Linked DNA regions of Homo sapiens. The protein of the gene in region 2 purifies or fractionates together with the protein of the main gene of each other region. This does not show direct contact. Each region holds a gene or a part of one and is shown on either strand. Other genes may lie near its edges.

Evidence for each region. The genes of interacting proteins can lie anywhere in the genome.
Region 1: the proteins of CD38 (region 2) and ZAP70 fractionate together in Homo sapiens (co-fractionation; one study listed by BioGRID). This does not show direct contact.

Annotation. Positions count from the first base shown.
Region 1 is NC_000002.12:97,725,977-97,731,427, reverse strand, and holds part of ZAP70 (tyrosine-protein kinase ZAP-70), read right to left. Parts: intron 1-5,451. UniProt on the Homo sapiens protein: Tyrosine kinase that plays an essential role in regulation of the adaptive immune response. Regulates motility, adhesion and cytokine expression of mature T-cells, as well as thymocyte development.
Region 2 is NC_000004.12:15,822,039-15,827,893, forward strand, and holds part of CD38 (ADP-ribosyl cyclase/cyclic ADP-ribose hydrolase 1), read left to right. Parts: intron 1-2,842; coding exon 2,843-2,978; intron 2,979-5,855. UniProt on the Homo sapiens protein: Synthesizes cyclic ADP-ribose (cADPR), a second messenger for glucose-induced insulin secretion.

The DNA of each region.
Region 1 (5,451 bases), on a different chromosome or scaffold from region 2:
ATCCCACAGAGACAGTAGGCTGGGACAGCAGATGCAGCGCCGTCACGTGAAACCCCGCAGTGACACCAGTCAACATCTCCCACAAAACATTTCTATTTTGAGTCACTGGCACAAGCTCCTGTTAAGTGCAGCTTTCCAGTGAGGAGGGAGGGCTATTGGCCCTGGGGGTCTCAGAGCTGTGGAAGTCAGAGGCAGGTGGCAGGCTGGCCTGGAGGTGATGGTCTCCAGGGACTGTGAGAAGTGAAAACACCTCCTAAGGGTCACAACCTGAAGTTTTAAACTGACAACAGAGACTCCATGCCAAGCCACTCACCAGCAAACAGCAAACCTCCCATCTCCCCTCCTCTGTCTCTTTTTTTTTTTTTTTTTTTTTGAGACCGAGTCTCGCTCCACAGCCCGGGCTGGAGTGCAGTGGCGTGATCTCGGCTCACTGCAAGCTCTGCCTCCTGGGTCCATGCCATTCTCCTGCCTCAGCCTCCCAAGTAGCTGGGACTGCAGGTGCACACCACCACGCCCAGCTAATTTTTTGTATTTTTAGTAGAGATGGGGTTTCACTGTGTTAGATAGGATGGTCTCAATCTTCTGACCTCGTGATCCACCTGCCTCGGCCTCCCAAAGTGCTGGGATTACAGGCGTGAGCCACCAAGTCTGTCTGTCTCTTTCATTCTTTCTTCTAGAACTAATAATTTCCTCCTTATTTGTTTATTTAAACTTCCATGTGGAATACTGGGGGAAAACAGCCACAATATTAGGGAGCTCTTCCCATCAATAGGTGGGGCCTCCTCCTCTGTCTTCTGAATCAGGGCTTGACCATGTGCCTTGCTAACAGGACATTAGCAAACATGACACAAGCAGAGGCTTGAAAAATGGTTGAACATTGAGGTTGGCCTGCCCTCTCTTGCTTTTCCTGGCAGCTCTCCAAATACCATGGGAATGAGTCCAAGCTAGCCTGCTAGAGAAGGCCCATGGAGGAGAACCAAGGCACCCTACATGAGTGGCCAATAGCCATTCATGTGAGTGAGGCCATCCCAGAGACCATCCAGCTCCAGCCAATCTTCCAGCTGGCTGTGGCCACATGAGTAAGCTCAAAAACCCAGCAGAAGAGGCACCCAGCTGAACTCAGCCCAAATTACCAAGCAACCAGCCAAATTGCCAAGCAAAACAAGAGTGAATAAATGATCGGTGTTTGTTTGTTTGTTTGGGACAGAGTTTTGCTCTTGTTGCCCAGGCTGGAGTACAATGGTGCAACCTTGGCTCACTGCAACCTCCACCTCCTGGGTTCAAGTGATTCTCTTGCCTCAGCCTCCCAAGTAGCTGGGATTACAGGCACCCACCATCATGCCCAGCTAATTTTTGTATTTTTAGTAGAGACAGGGTTTCACCATGTTGGCCAGGCTGGTCTCAAACTCCCGACATTAGACGATCCGCCTGCCTCAGCTTCCCAAAGTGCTGGGATTACAGGTGTGAGCCATCACACTTGGCTGTAAATGACCATTGTTTTAAGCCACTACATTTCAGGGTATGAATACAGCACATTGTTACACAGCAAAAGCTAACCAATACACTCTTTGGAAAGAGATGTGTGAGTTCATAAAGAGCAGCTGCAAATTCCCAGATAATAACCACAAAAGCTAAGACATTGGTGTTATCACCACATATATTTCAGTACCATAAGTTCTACTTGATTTACAAAAAAAAAAAAAAATGCTAGGTAGTGGCAGTTCTTTGTTCTTGCAGTTGGAACTTGCACTTAAGCCAGAAGTACAGGCTAAAAAATCAACTTGTATCTCTGCTCTTAAAATAATACATAGAACCTATAAGAGCTACATCTGTCTCTGGTTCACGATTGTAAACAAAACAAAACAAAAGGGCTACAATTTATTTATTAAGATATTGGTTCTAAATTCCTCACATATTTGTCCTATAATCACAGCACTCCCCACAAAGTAGGCACTATTGTTATCTCCATTTTGCAGATGAGGAAACTGAGGCACAAGATTATGTATCTTGCCTAAATTGCAGAGTTGGTAAGAGATAGGAGGGGGAGCCAGGATTCAAATGCATTTCTGACTCTACAGTTAATTGCTACCTAGGACTAACACCCAGCTCTGTCACAGATTATCTGTGAAACCCTGAATAAACTGCTTATCCTCGCTGTGCCTCGGTTTCCTTATGTATAAAATGAGGTAACTGGTCTAAATCATAACTTCTTGACCTGAAAAGGGTTCTAAGGACGAGGTTCAGGACCAACCATGATCTCATATAACTGTCTGCAAAGTCTTTGAGGTGAATATGCTTTGGGGGATTGTGAAAGGAGCAGTCAGTAGGATTCCAAAGAGGTCTGCAGTCCAGGAGAGGATAAGAAACACTTGACAGGCCAGGCGCGGTGGCTCACGCCTGTGATCCCAGCAATTTGGGAGGCCAAGGCGGGTGGATCACCTGAGGTCAGGAGTTCGAGACCAGCCTGGCCAACATGGCAAAACCCTGTCTCTACTGAAAATACAAAAATTAGCCAAGCGTGGTGGTGCACGCCTATAGTCCCAGCTACTCAGGGAGGCTGAGGCAGAAGAATCACTAAACCCGGGAGGCAGAGGTTGCAGTGAGCGAAGATTGCACCACTGTGCTCCAGCCTGGGTGACAGAGCAAGACTCTGTCTCAAAAAAAGAAACACTTGACAATGTACTCTCTTAAAGGCCCTTTCCAGGACAAGTTTCTTTTAAAGTCGAATCAGCCGGTTCCATAAAATTGCTGCCAATAACACAGAAACAAGCCAGCATTGGCAGTGCACAGCCCTGGGTACAATTAAATCTGTTCTTCGGCAACCATGAACTGTGATCAATGGTAGGCGTGGTCCTGGTCTTCACTCTAGGCCTGAGTAGCACGTGTCTTTCTCTCACACCCCAAGCCCTGAGAAAGCAGTTATAGACTACAGGAACCACAAGAAGAAGCTCTCACAGTTTCTGTCCAAAGCGTACCTTGCCTAATTTTCCAGGAGCCTGGCTCTTTGTAGCTGCTTCGTCTCTTGACGTTTACCCAGAATGAGTCATTGTCCTCATACCACTGTGCCAGCTGTGGACCTCACTGCCAGCCACACGCTCTATGCTGTGCCCAGATGCTGGGCATCTCTCCTTCCTAGCCACACCCTCCCACCGCCAACGCTTGTCCTATTTGCCTGGGAGACTGCACGCCAGTTTGATATGCAATGCACAGACAGCTGCTTAAAGCTGTTGGCCCTGGCTCTCCTGAGACTCCTCTAATCTCAGCAGACTGGTTGACTCTAAGCCTGTCATGAGCTCTGCTGTGTTACACAAAAACTGTTTGAACTTTTCCTTTGGGCAGTGAAACCTCTGCCACACAACATTGTGTGTGGAAGCCTAAGATAGCAAACAGATCAAAGCTGAGCGGCTGTCGTCATTCAAGCTGGAACAGGGGCCCAAATCCCACCTGCTCAACCCTTCTCTCACTCTCCCACCCCCTAGAATCCTCTGCCACTCTCAGGAGGCTTTAGGGAATCTGGGGGAAATTTTTAAGCCATTGGAGTGGCAGAATCATGACCTGTATGTGTGTGTGTGAGTGCAAGATGAGGAAGAGAGATGGGGGTGGGGAGGGAAAGAGAGAAGAAGAAAGGAAAACTGAGACAGAAGAGAGGCAGAGATGGTGGGGATGAAAAGCTACATTGGGGATGTAGGGGGAAAACAGAGAAGAAACTCAGATTATAAAATCAAAGAAGACAGATGAATTTACATTTTATGAAAGAGAAAGCAGAGACGGAAGGAAAGAATCAGCTACATCAATAGGAAGGGTTTAGAGCCTTCTTCGCGTGTCCAGCCTGGGGAGAGCCCCTGGACTCTCAGGCACCTGGGGTAGCATGTAATGGACGAGGGGGATATGAGCATGTGAGAACGTGGGAGCAAACATTACTAACATCTTGGCGAGGGTCACACCTGGGGTGGGGTGATGCAACATCTGGAGGAAGGTGGGTAATACCTGGACCAGCCATCACCATGTACTGCAAGATGGAGCCCTCCAGATGCAGCAGGGCAGGCCCTGCCCTCAGGCTGACAGTCCAAAAGGAAAGAGAGACAGCCCCCAACACCCATGTTCACAATGCCCATACCTTCACGACAACTTGCTTCATCCAATCCTACGACCAACCGTTTGCAAAAATGGCTCCCTGCATTCCTCTCCCTTAAGGAATCCCTTCCCTACAGTGACTTTGGTTTTGGTCGTATGACTTGCTTTGTCCATTAGGACATCAGTGACATTACACAAACAAAGGCTTGAACTTGCCCTGTCCTCTCTGACTGATCTTGGGAACCCTGCACCACCACCACACAAACAAGCTTCAGCTAGCTTGCTGGATGATGGCTGCACTGGGCCAGCTCATCCCCATCACCCAGGTGACACTGAGCCAATGGCCAGTCATGTGAGTGTGGCCATCCCAGCCTATTCAGGCCCAGCCTAGATGACCCAAACCAGAACTGCTTAGTTAGCTCACAGAATCATGAAGAGCAATAAACTGTCATTTTGAGCCAATAAATCTTAGGGCTGCTTGTTATGTAGCAAAAGCTAACTGATACAAATGCAAAGGTTTCCTCTTAGAGAAAACAGCCCTGTCCTGTTCAGAAGTTGTGCCGGCAACTGAGTATTACGTGCAACATGTATCTAAGAGCTCCCTCAGAAGCCTTGGAAACTCCACTCCAATTTACAGCCTAAATCTGAATCTGTATGGTAGGGTGAAAAGAGTTATTTTATCAGCCCACAACAGAATCTTGGAGAGGGAGCTGCATCTTGCAAGAGGCCTGCAGGCAATCTACAGAAACTTCACATGGGTGAGGAAAATCAAGGGATGTGGTCATTTCCTCCAAGTGGGTTGACCTCAGGAGAGGAAACAGCCCTGGGGGAGGCAGATGACCCAAGGGATCTGCTGGGCAGGGGCTCAGGCCAAGAAGCACTCACGAGAAGGAAGGCCCAAGAATTGTCCCCACAGATTTCTTGGGGGAAAACACTGGGCTTCCTGAGGTCATGGGAAAGAGGCAGCACCAATTTATCTGTGTCTTGAGGCCTGAGTGACCTCAGCTGCACCTGGATACCATCTGTTACAGAAAAGATCCCGTGTCCAAACCAGAGAGCAACAGCCCCAGCAGGGCTGTCAAACACTCAGCAGAGTTTTAAAAAGAGATTTTCAGAGATTTTTTTCACATTAACAAACTCACAAATAGCTACATGGCCTCAGCTGTGGCTCAGACACGCACGTTCACCCACATATAAAAGCTAACATTTACCGCATTTTTCCTATGTCAGTTACCATACTCTCGATTCACACGTATTAATTCATGTAATCCTCATAGAGGATCCTGAGGGGAGGTACTGCTGTCAACCACAGGACAGTTAGAGGGGGCTGCTTCAACACTCTCCCGGGGATCCCACCTCACTTGGGGGAAAAGCTAA
Region 2 (5,855 bases):
TACATGAATCAATAAATGTAATTCATTACATAAAGAGAACTAAAGACAAAAACCACATGATTATCTCAATAGATGCGGAAAAGGCCTTCGATAAAATTCACCATCCCTTCACGTTAAAAACTCTCAATAAGCTAGGTATCAAAGGAACATACCTCAAAATAATAAGAACCATTTATGACAAACCCACAAGCAATATCATACTGAGTGGGCAAAAGCTGGAAGCATTCCCCTTGAAAACCGGCACAAGACAAGGATGTCCTCTCTCACCACTCCTATTCAACATAGTATTGGATGTTCTGACCGGGACAATCAGGCAAGAGAAAGAAATAAAGTCTTTTCAAATGGAAAAAAGGAAATAAAATTGTCTTTGTTTGCAGATGACATGATCCTATAACTAGAAAACCGGATCATCTCAGCCCCAAAGCTTCTTAAGCTGATAAGCAACTTCAGCAAAGTCTCAGGATACAAAATCAATGTGCAAAAATCACAAGCATTCCTGTACACCAACAACACGCAAGCAGAGAGCCAAATCATGAATGAACTCCCATTCACAAAGGGAATAAAATACCTAGGAATACAGCAAACAAGGGAAGTGAAGGACCTCTTCATGGATACCTATAATCCACTGCTCAAGGAAATCAGAAAGGACACAAACAAATAGAAAAACATTCCTTCCTCATGGATAGGAAGAATCAATATCGTGAAAATGGCCATACTGCCCAAGGTAATTTATAGATTCAGTGCTATTCCCATTAAACTACTATTGACATTCTTCATAGAATTAGAAGAAACTATTTTAAAATTCATATGGAACCAAAAAAGCTCATATAGCCAAGATGATCCTAAGCAAAAAGAACAAAGCTGGAGGCATCGTGCTACCCAACTCCAAACTGCACTACAAGGCTACAGATGCCAAAATAGCATGGTACTTGTACAAAAATAAACACATAGACCAATAGAACAGAGTAGAGATCTCAGAAATAAAACTACACATCTGCAGCCATCTAATCTTTGGCAAACCTGACAAAAACAAGCAATGGGGAAAGGAATCCACATTTAATAACTGGTGCTTGAGAACTACCTAGCCATATGCAGACAATTGAAACTGGACCCCTTCCTTGCAACTCATACAAAAATTAAGATGAATTAGAGACTTAAATGTATAACCCAAAACTATAAAAACCTTAGAAGAAAATCTAGGCAATATCATTTGGGACACAGGCACAGGCAAAGATTTCATGAAATTGCCAAATGCAATTGTAACAAAAGCAAAAATTGACAAATGGGATCTAATTAAACTAAAGTGCTTCTGCACAGCAGAAGAAACTATCATCAGAGTGAACAGAAAACCTGCAGAATGGGAGAAGATTTTTGCAATCTATCCCTCTGACAAAGGTCTAATATCCAGAATTTACAAAGAACTTAAACAAATTTACAAGAAAAAAATAAACAGCCCCATCAAAAAGTGGGCAAAGAACATGAACAGACACTTCTCAAAAGAAGACATCCATGTGGCCAACAAACATATGAAAAAAAGCTCAACATCACTGGTCATTAGAGAAATGCAAATCAAAACCACAATCTCATGCCAGTCAGAATGGCATTATTAAAAAGTCAAGAAACAGCAGATGCTGGTGAGATTGTGGAGAGATAGAAATGCTTTTACACTGTTGGTGGGAATGTAAATTAGTTCAACCATTGTGGAAGATAGTGTGGCAATTCCTCAAAGATCTAGAACTAGAAATACCGTTTGACCCAGCAATCCCATTACTGGGTATAATAGAAATCATTCTATTATAAAGATATGTGCATGCATATGTTCATTGCAGTGCCATTCACAATAGCAAAGACATGGAATCAACTCAAATGCCCATCAGTGATAGGCTGGATAAAGAAAATGTGGTACGTATACACCATGAAATATTATGCAGCCATAAAAAGGAACAAGATCATGTCCTTTGTAGGGACATAGATGGAGCCAGAAGCCACATCTTCAGCAAACTAACACAGGAACATGCAAATGCTGCATGTTCTCACTTATAAGTGGGAGCTGAACAGTGAGAACACATGGACACCAGGAGGGGAAAAACACACACTGTAGCTTGTTGGGGTTGGGGTGAGGGGAGTGAGAACATTAGGACAAATAGCTAATGCATACTTGGCTTAATACCTAGGTGATGGGTTAATAGGTGCAGCAAACCCATGGCACATATTTACCTATGTAACAAACCTGCACATCCTGCATGTATACCCTGGATATACATGCCCAGGATATACATTTTATTTAAAATAAAAATAAAAATAATAGATTCATAAAACAGAATATAATTCTGAACTTTGACTCCCTGTACCTTTAAGAGGGACCCTTAAATTTAAAAATCTATTGTATTTTTTTTTTAGTAGGGGTAGGGAATATTTAGGGAATTTGGAAGGGGTTATATAGTTCTTTAAGAATCAAATAGCACATCTTCCTGAAAATAGCACGTAGACAAAGTTTTTTTGGAGATAACCTTAGGAATATCGTAACTCTCTGATGCCACCTCCATATGTGATCCTATGTTGATTATAAGATTTTGATCAGTGGCTTTCAGACTTTTTTGACTGCAACCTAGAATAAAAGATTCATTTACATTGTGACCTAGAACACACACACACACACACACTCTCTCTCCGCCACTCTCCTGCACACAGAAATCATTGATGCTTACAACAATTCTTACTCTTACTATGGGTGATTTACTTTGATATGCTCTGTTTTTTTTTTCATTTACAAAACTGTGGATTAATTTTTTTTGACATGCTAAATTGATCTCAGTAATAGATTGTATTTATTCTTCCTTAGATTCTTCTTTGGAGCAGAATAAAAGATCTGGCCCATCAGTTCACACAGGTCCAGCGGGACATGTTCACCCTGGAGGACACGCTGCTAGGCTACCTTGCTGATGACCTCACATGGTGTGGTGAATTCAACACTTCCAGTGAGGCTCTGGGCCCTGTGGGATTGCCCAGGGATGTGGAGGGTGAACAGAGTGACTTCTGCTGGAGGCCCTGAATGATTAGTGTGGAGGACAGAGCCACAGGCACCCATCCTGATGCCATCTATACTTATATTAGTCCATTTGTGTTGCTATTAAGGAATACCTGAGGCTGCGTAATTTATAAAGAAAAGAGGTTTATTTGACTCACAGTTACGCAGGCTGTACAAGAAGTAGGGTACCAGCATCCACTTCGGGTGAAGGCCTGAGGCTGTTTCCACTCATGGAGAAGGGGAAGGGGAGCTGGCATTTACAGAGATCACATGGTGAGGGAGGAAAGCAAGGAGAGGTCAGGGGAGGTGCCAGGCTGTTTGTAATGACCAGCTGTCCTGGGAACTAGTAGAGTAAGAACTCATTACTATAAGGACAGCACCATGCCATTCGTGCAGGATCATCCCTATGACCCAAACACCTCCTACTAGTCCCGAGCTCCAACACTGGGGGTCGAATTTCAACATAAGGTTTGGAGAGTTAAATATCCAAACTATAGCACTACCCTTAATGGCAACTCAGGCTGATATAAAGTAGCATTCCCTGTTTTCTTGAAAAATTGACTTCAGAGTTGGGGATTGCCCATGCTCCCTAATTCCCTTCTTTTGAGTGCTCACATAGCCTGCTTCCGAATTCTTGGTATTTTGCTCTCTGTAAGGTCATCATTCAGGTCCAAAGAAGTCTAGAACAGGATGAGGTCTCAGTGGGACCTAGACCAAGGTTCTTGCTCTTCAGAATCATCACAGTAGCCATGGACTGGACTCTTCCATCTCAGGCACTGGCTTTGCCATCATTTTTCAGATGTAGCCTTATCCTGCCCAGAAAGACTCAACACCTCACCAGGGGAAGGGATTTCCTACAACCAAAACCCTACTGCAGTTTTCACTTCTTTTTTTTTTCTTTTTGTTTATATGGTGGATATTTTTACTTTATATAGTTTTATTCTTATTTTTACTGTTTTTCATTGTTTGTTTTTAAAAGCTTATCTTATTATAGCTTCTTTGTCCCAGGTTTGCATTACTTTCAATTACAAAAATAAAGCATGATTATTTGAAAAAAAAATACTTGCACATTACAGAAATGCATAAAAGCAAAAAGCAAATGTCACTCTGAATTTTCCCTTCACCTCCTACCTCCGCATCACTTCTCAAAGGGTAACTATTATCAGCAATTTGATATAGATCTTTCTAGACTTTTCCTATGCTAATGTAAACATATATATTTAAAATGTACACGCGCTGTTGTGCAACTTGCTTTATTCACTTAAAATTGGTAGGTATAAAGATAGCTATCCTCTTTTAAAAGGCTTTATCATTAAGAATCCTATTAATGGATATTAAGTTGCTTTAGTTTTGGTTGCTATTATGTCATTATTGTAAGAAACACTTTTGTGCGCACACACACACACACACACACACACACACACACACACACCTGCATACTTGAACGATAAATTTTTATAAATGAAACTTCAATGTTAAAGGATAAATTGTAATAGAAACTGGTAACATGTCATTTAAAAGATGGTAACTATACCCTCATCAAGAGTATATATATGAGGCCAGGCACAGTGGCTCATACCTGCAATCCCAGCACTTTGGGAGGTGGAGGAGGGAGGATCACTTGAGCCCAGTAGTTTAAGAACGGCCTGGGCAACATAGTAAGACCCCATCTCTATTTTACACTAAAAAAAGAAAAAAAAAGAATGTATATGAGATAGTTTATTTACCTATATCCCCACTAACACCAGGTATTGTTACTTTAAAATTTTTGGCTCATTTCAGAAGAAAATAATACCTCAATTTAGTGTGAAGTTCTTTGATGGTGAGGCTACTATATATACATAAATGGTAGATTTTCTGTTTCTTCTGTAAGCTGGCAGTTCATATATTTTGACCATCTGTATGCGGTATCTATTATTTTCTAATTAGTAGAAGTTCTTTATAAATTAATAAGAGCTACGATGTATTAAGTACTTACAAAGTGCCAGTGTTCCATGTGCTACGTAAGTAGTCACTCATTTAATCCTCCACAGCCCCATGAGGTCATATGGTGATCCCATTTTAGAGATAGGAAGTCTGAGGCATGGAGTTAAGTAATTTGCCAGCCAGTAAGTGGCAAAGCAAGAAGCAAAGTTTCTCAGACTAACTTGAGAAACTTTGCTCTTAACTGCCATGTTTTTCTGCCCACTTTCTGGCTCAAGTTGGCGAATATATTTTTCTTATTTTGGACTTTACACGGTGTTTATGGTCTGTCTTTTGCCACCCAGAAATGCAGAAAACCTGTCTGTTCTCTTCCTTATAGCTTCTGTGTTTCATATCTTCCTTAAAAAGATCTTCTTAGAGAAGCATTCTTCTGTATTTTCACCTACTATTTTTACTTTCACAATGTTTAAAATATTTTCCATATTTAGATCTGAGTCTTCCCACCTAGAATATGGTAATATAAATATGTTTTTCCATTAATTTTTTTAGATTTTACAGTTTTTCCCATGTTCCATGTTTTCCTTTTTAAATTTCCCTTTTAACAATGACTGTTTTATTGGTCATTCATTTAACATTTAGCTTTTAAATGTATTTACAGTAGACTTCTCTCCTTTTGTTTTATTTTTTAATTTGTTCAATTTTTCTTGAAATAAAGTAGAGAAAATGAAATAATTTATTTTTAAGAACTGATTTATTTACAGTTCAGAGTTCCTTATTTTTGCCTTCTTTTAAATTGAATTATGTATATGTAGTTTTATTTATCTACATTCTAATACTTTGGCCTCAATTTTTAATTTCTTCTTATTTTATAGATTATCTTTCAAGTTCCTGATGTATATGTATT